Linked DNA regions of Homo sapiens. The protein of the gene in region 2 purifies or fractionates together with the protein of the main gene of each other region. This does not show direct contact. Each region holds a gene or a part of one and is shown on either strand. Other genes may lie near its edges.

Region 1 (3,650 bases), on a different chromosome or scaffold from region 2:
GGTGGCCCATGCCTGTAATCCCAGCACTTGGGGAGGCTGAGGCAGGCGGATCACCTGAGTTCAGGAGTTTGAGACCAGGTTGGCCAACATGGTGAAATCCTGTCTCTATTAAAAATACAAAAAATTGGGCTGGGCGCGGTGGCTCATGCCTGTAATCCCATCACTTTGGAAGCCCGAGGCAGGTGGATCACAAGGTCAGGAGTTTTAAGACCAGCCTGGTCAAGATGGTGAAACCTCGTCTCCACTAAAAATACAAAAAAAAAATAACCGGACATGGTGGTGGGTGCCTGTAATCCCAGCTACTCAGAGGCTGAGGCAGAGAATTGCTTGAACCTGGGAGGCGGAGGCTGCAGTGAGCCGAGATCATGCCACTGTGCTCCAGGCTGGGCAATAGAGCAAGACTCCATTTCAAAAAAGAAATACAAAAAATGAGCCAGGCATGGTGGTGAGCGCCTGTAATCCCAGCTACTTGGGAGGCTAAGGCAGGAGAATCACTTGAACCTGGGAAGTGGAGGTTGCAGTGGGCCGAGATCCTGCCACTATACTCCAGCCTGCGCAACAGCGCAAGACTCCATCTCAAAAAAAAAAAAAAAGAAAGAAAAAGGGTACTGTGGAGCTGGGCCATGACGGCTCCACGAGAAAGCCCATGAGAAACAAATGTTCCCCAGTCAGGAGAGGGTGCTACACCCAGGACAGGTGCCACGGCCAGGGGAGCCTGGGCGAGGGGTACGTGAGACCTCTGTCTTATGCTGGCAACTTCCTGTTTGCAATTTCCCATTTGAAATCACAGAATTCTCTTAAAATGAAAAGCCAGAAAGAAAAGTAACAGGACATGTCAGATCATGAGCTGTGACCCCTAACCCCAGGCACCCCCCGGGGCCTCCCGGCAGGCTTTGGAGCCTTACTGGGCTGCTTCAGCCGCAGCTCCATGGCGGGGTCGCTGCCCTTCTCCCTGCGGCCCTCACACAGCAGCTTCTCCCGCTCCTTCTCGGTCCGATACTCCAGAAGCTGCTTCTGCGCCTGGCGGTAGATCTTCAGCAGCCTGGAGCACAGGGTCTGGTGCAGGCGCAGGAAGAAGTACCAGTTGTTGTTGGCAAAAAATAGGCTGTAGACATCGTCCAGGGGCTTGTGCGGGGCTGGGGGCGGCAGGGGTGGCTGCTCAGTGGCCGGGGCATCCCCGAAGGCCCCCTTCTCCTCTGGGGGGCTACTGTGGGGTCCTGGCGCCGGCTTCTTCCGCTCACTGGGGTCTGTGGTCTGCCCCTGGGGGCTGTCCCGGTCCTCATCAGCTGACTCCTCGGAGGCGCCCAGGTCCAGCTGCTGAGAGAAGAAGAGGCTGGGCACGAACTGGTGCAGCAGCTGGTGGATGGTGCCCTGGTCCTCCTTCTGGATGGCCGGCTGCCGCTTCACGTAGTAGCTGATGAGCGCTGCTGCGTCCTCCAGGATCTGCCGGTCCTCGTACACAAAGATGAGGTGCGGCTCGCTAGAGGGGGCACTGCGGCCCTCCGAGTGCTGCTCCTGGTGCTGTGGGGGGAAGGGCGGCCATTAGGTGGAAAGCCACCCAGCACCCAGAGGACCCCCAGTGCCCATTCACGACTCGCTGTTAACTGGGCCACCAAGGTGGATGAGCGCTGCCCAGAGCAGGATGGGTGGCGAACATCGGTGAGGCAGCAGGGCCTGGGGGGTAGGTCGCTTGCCTCAACCTCTTGTGCAGCCCCATGTGCTCCTGGTCCCCTCTCCGAAAGTGAGGCAGACCCAAGTCATCCCGGGACCCCAGACAAAGGAGCCAAGAGGATTCTGAGATGTGGGGCGGGGTTCACAGGGGGTCTGACAGCGTCAAGCCTGGGTCTGTCGCTCAGCCCAGCTCCAGGACAGAACGGGGCCCCGTGGCTCAGCATGGAGAAGCCTCTGAGGCTGACCTCCTCCTACTGAAAGCAACGGTGGCGCCTGATTCCAGCTCGACCGGGGCTGCCCACACCATGCTATCGATGAAGTCAAGGAGGCAAAGGGTGAGCCGTGACCTCTCTGCCTCTGCCCTCCATCTACTACCCGGAAGGCCTGCAACTGCTCACATCTGAAGACCTGCACGCCCATCGTCACCAAGCCCCCGCCTCCGCTGCTGTCCCCGCCAGCCCCTGCACGTGCTTGCTACCACCATCATGTCACCAGCCCTCCCACCAGCTCCCACCAGCCTGCTCCAACCACTCTCCTCACTGGGTCCAGGGTGACTTGGCCCACAGGAGCATGGTCACCCCAACTAATGCCCTTCAGGCTTTCCCAGGCTGCTCAGAAGACGCCGGCCCCTGATGTGCCCCTCCACAGCTCCTCCAGCCTCACCGCGCCAAGCTCCCTCCTGCGTGTGCAGGGCCTTTGCACATGCCCATCTGCTCTCACTCCCTGGAAAACCCTGTCCCAGGCTCACCCCTCCCCTTGGTCTTTATCTAGATCATGACTTTCATTCCCTCACACCATTAGACAATCACCCCTTCCTCCAGCCTCCCACACCACTGTCCTGGCACCCAGGGCCTCTGCTGGGCAGCCCCAACCCCCTCAGTCCAAGGCAGGGAGGCAGACGCAGCAGGGCTCTTGGGGAAAATGAGCGTGGATGCCATCTCTGCAGGCTCCCGAGGGAAGGACCGGGTCTCCTAGCAGCCTGAGGTTTCCCTTCCTCCTCCCCTGCAAGGCGGCTTAGAGGCTGGTAGGGCCAAGCACACTGACCTGGTTCCTAGGAGTCTGCACGCTCAGCCCTGCTCTGGGCTCTTCAGTGTGACCATCGCCCTCTGACTGCTTCCTAAGTCCCCCAGGTCTCATTTATGCCATAAACACTCTGAAAATTCCTTTACAGTCCCCTCTGAAGCAGGGTCCCCATGTCCATGATCTGTAACCATGCTTTGTAAATCACGTGATGGAATGGGGTTCTGACTTTGGAATTCATCAAGGACCTGCATGTGCAGAGATCTGCATATGAACCTTGGTGCCCCTCCCTTTGTCAGCCCCAGCCCCAGGGAGGGATCCAGGAACTCAGGGTCGCATTGGTGGATTTCCAGGGCTACTTCATCATCTGCACTTTGCAGACACCACAGACCCACAGAACCTATACGGGGTCTTGGGCTTGAGGATCGCCGAGGACTAGAGTGAGGAAGCCAGAGTGGTTGTGGGTGGGCCTGGGGCGAGGGTGGCCCACGGGAAGGGAGGTGGGAGGGAAGGGGGTCCCCACAGTCCCACAGGCTCTGGGAGAGGCCTTGGGCCAGCAGCCCGGCTCCTGTGGATTCCGTTTCTGTGTTGTAAAAGAAGGAGCGACCGCTCACTGTGCAGTGACAGGAGCAAGAAACCAAATCAGGTGAGGCAACACCCCCTGCCCAGGTGGGCACCAGGCTGATAACGCAGCCCGTGCCATGATCTGGGCACTGCCTGGGGAGTAGTGTGCCCTCCTAAGCCACCTCCTCAGAGTGTCCAAGGACCTTCCCGACAGCTGGCTATCACCACGCCCGGCACCCTGCCAAGCTTCCCACCTCAGGATCCTGCAAGCAGGCACTCCCTACACACAGCTACTAACAGGCCCAGCTCCTGGCAACCTGAGGGCCCCGCTGGCCTTGGTTCTATGACTCAGGCCTTGTGAGCCTGCAGTGAGGACATGCAGCCGAAAGCCTCGA
Region 2 (3,553 bases):
GAGACTACATCTCAAAAAAAAAAAAAGAAGATTAAAACTGTATGTGCTTATACTGAATGGAACTGAATTTAAGAAAAACATGCTTTCACAGCTGTTCTGATCCATTTCTTCTCAACAGTGTATTAAAAATATACATTCTAAATCTTGCTTTAATGATATGCTTGTCTCATACATAATATGAACTGTAGTTTACAATATTTCATAAGACACTGAAAAGTCTAAATGCCTTATTTATGAAGATATAATAGATGGTAAAGTTTAATGTGTATTATAAAAGCAAGATTTTATCACTCTCGGCCTTCTGGTTAAGATCAAGTATATAAAAGCAAGATTATCAAAATAATAATTAACTCAAGAAAAATCTAGAAAAGCTTAGCAAAAATGTATATATAGCTCTTAAGGAAAAAATTAACTCACGTTACACCAGGATGAAGATTATATTTCTTCTTTCCAAATCGTGTTTGCTGAGCAAAGAAATCATAACGTTCAGATTTTTTCCACATGTAATAGAATGCTACACATTCACCAACTGACCTTGTTCGGACCTGTAAGAAACAAATGCTTGCTTTTAAGAATCTCCTTTTTAACAAAGTTACTTCATGATAAACATCTGAAGTTTGAAAATAAATTTGGCTAGTCCTTAACTGAAATATAATCCTATATATAACATACAACAGTGTAGCAGCTATGTTGAAAGCTATTCTTTCTAAACATCTATTAAGAGAAATAATATATTGGCAACAGGTCTTCAGATATACAGCACTGTGCTTTTTAAAATGCTACCATCATCCTAATTTACTAGAAAAATATATTCCTGTATTAAAAATGCTTGGAAGTTGGCCGGGCACGGTGGCTCACGCCTGTAATCCCAGCACTTTGGGAGGCCAAGGGGGGTGGATCACGAGGTCAGGAGTTCAAGACCAGCCTGGCCAAGATGGTGAAACCCCATCTCTACTAAAAATACAAAAATTAGCCGGGCATGGTGGCAGGTGCCTGTAATCCCAGCTACTCGGGAGGCTGAGGCAGGAGAATCACTTGAACCCCAGCAGGGGGTGGGGGTGGGGGCAGAGGCTGCATTAAGCTGAGATCACACCACTGCACTCCCACCTGGGTGACAGAATGAGACTCAGTCTCACACACACACACACAAAAAAAAGGCCTGGAAGTGGCATTCATGTTAAAATAAATGTTATAAACAGTTTGCTAATACTTTTACTCACAGAGTACGGGTACCTAGGGAGCGTATCTTTAAATTCCCTTTTGAAAGATTCTCTTACTAGTCCCAACAGCAACCCAGACTCAGTTAATTTACTCTCTAGAAAGTCTGGGAAGATGCCACAGTGAGTTAAAAGTATCATAATAATGCTAATGCTTTGTTTACTAAGTTACTCTTGCGGCTTACTGTGCTGTACCTATTTGTGCAACTGAATGGCTCCCCTCACATAATGTTAAATGCCTACGGAATTAAATGATGCTGACAGAATTCCTTTTTGTTACTTAGCCGGGAGAACTGGTGGTAGGGTTGATGTATATATATAAAATACTGAGGATTTAGGGCTGATGTATATAAATAAAATACTGATAACTTTTTTCCTTTCTTTTTCTTTTTTTTTTGAGATAGTGTCATGCTCTGTTGCCCAGGCTGGAGTACAGTGGCACCAAACCGCTAACTGCAGCCTTGCCCTCCCAGGCTCAAGCAATCCTCCTGCCTCAGCACCCTCAATAACTGGGACCACAATTGCATGCCACCAAACTCAGGTAATTTTTCTATTTTTTGTAGAGATGGGGTTTTGCCATGTTGCCTAGGCTGTTCTTGAACTCCCAGGCTCAAGCAATCTGCATGCTTCAACCTCCCAAAGTACTGAGATAACAGGCATGAGCCACTGCACCGGCAATACTGACCATTTAAAAGGAAATCCAGTGTCTGTATGTGTTCTGGATGCAATATACTTCTTTATCCCATAAATTTCTGCTCTTGAAGTAAATATTCTGTAGCACTGATTGCACCTAAAGGACAAATGTTGATGATACCCTCCCTTACCCAACATATATTTTGCTTTCTTCCCGTTTGCACTGTACAGCTCTGATCCATATTGCTCTGAGACTGACAGCAATCAGGACTTTAAAAAAAATCATCCTCTCAAGCTGTTTTTTGTCTCCTCTAGGATCTTATTTCTAGATAGATTCGAACTAAGTCAACTGTACTTTACTGAAAGCAAAAAGATAAAGTCATTTTGGGGCATGCAAAGTTAAGATTATGAAAAATCTTCAACAAAAGCCCTCAAAATAGAACTTATGATTAAGATCTGAACTTTAATTCCAGACATAAAAACAAACTCGATATTCTCACTAGAGTACTCGTCTCCCTTTTAAAGAATTACTGTCCTCTTTTTGTGCACTAGAGTAATTTAGTGTATTATGTAGAGGTCAGCTGACTTCTACCTTGTAACATTTAAATGCCACTGTCCCAAATATTTATGAGAAATCAAGGTTATACTTTTAATACTTATGTTACTTGGCTCTAAGTTTCAAGTCACCTATAATTTCTTAACTCCTTTAAAAAAATCATATTGGTCAGGGTTGTTGCTGCTGCTTGTTACATAAGCTATCATTCCAGGGGTCCCTTCCTTAGGTAATTCAGCATGGTTTGGTTAAGAGTGTTTTAATTCAAGCAGAAGTGTTAAAAAACAACAACAACAACAACAAAAAAAAAACCTCATCCAAAAATGTTGTCCCTTTCAACCATGAAACAACGAACTTTTTTCTTTTTTAATCAAAAACATACACGGCCAGTCACATAATGCACTCCTTTTCTTGAATGTTAACTATATTTGAGGTTATCAGATGATATGAACACAACATTAGGGGTATACATTTTTGAAACTAATTACATTGTCTTCTAAGTTATCCTAAATGCTAAAACTAAACATTTCTCTATTAGTGTTATCTGCGGTAAACTGCCAACATTCAACAAAATAATTAAGAATGAACTAATTGGGAGTGGGGCTCTTCACTGCCCAGTTCCCACTTAAAAAAAAAATAATAAAAATAAGAATAAACTAGTTAATGCACGACAAAATTTAAGAAATGAACCCACAGGATTTGTAAATATTTTATTAATAACAAAAAATATTAAATATGTGTCAAAAAAATCAACTGGATACAATCCAATCACATCCAAATGTATAAAAAGAGAGCTGTGGCAGAAGACTATTCAGAGCCTCAGACATAAGCCCAGGTACTTTCAACAAGGTCCTGGACAAGCTACGACACAAAACTTAGAAGCTATCTTTAAGGAATTACATAAACCAATACCCTTGTCATTTCTACTAACTAAAAATAATGTGATAATCATAAGCCTGGGAATTAATTTCCTACATTTAATCTCCAAGACTTTAATTCTGCCTGTCCTAATCTGTTGTCCTAATGTGTTGCTCATGGAAACAACACATTTTTCTATTCTATATAATTATATGGTTACTATTAAAAATCATACCTAATTTCAGTTATAAGAATTAAGCCCCAAAACAAATCTGTAAGTAATTATAAAGCT

Evidence for each region. The genes of interacting proteins can lie anywhere in the genome.
Region 1: the proteins of MIER1 (region 2) and SIN3B purify together in Homo sapiens (co-immunoprecipitation; one large-scale study listed by IntAct). This does not show direct contact.

What each region holds. Positions count from the first base shown.
Region 1 is NC_000019.10:16,867,331-16,870,980, reverse strand, and holds part of SIN3B (paired amphipathic helix protein Sin3b), read right to left. Parts: intron 1,522-3,650; coding exon 906-1,521; intron 1-905.
Region 2 is NC_000001.11:66,973,587-66,977,139, reverse strand, and holds part of MIER1 (mesoderm induction early response protein 1), read right to left. Parts: exon of another isoform or gene 1,622-3,553; intron 546-1,621; coding exon 418-545; intron 1-417. UniProt on the Homo sapiens protein: Transcriptional repressor regulating the expression of a number of genes including SP1 target genes. Probably functions through recruitment of HDAC1 a histone deacetylase involved in chromatin silencing.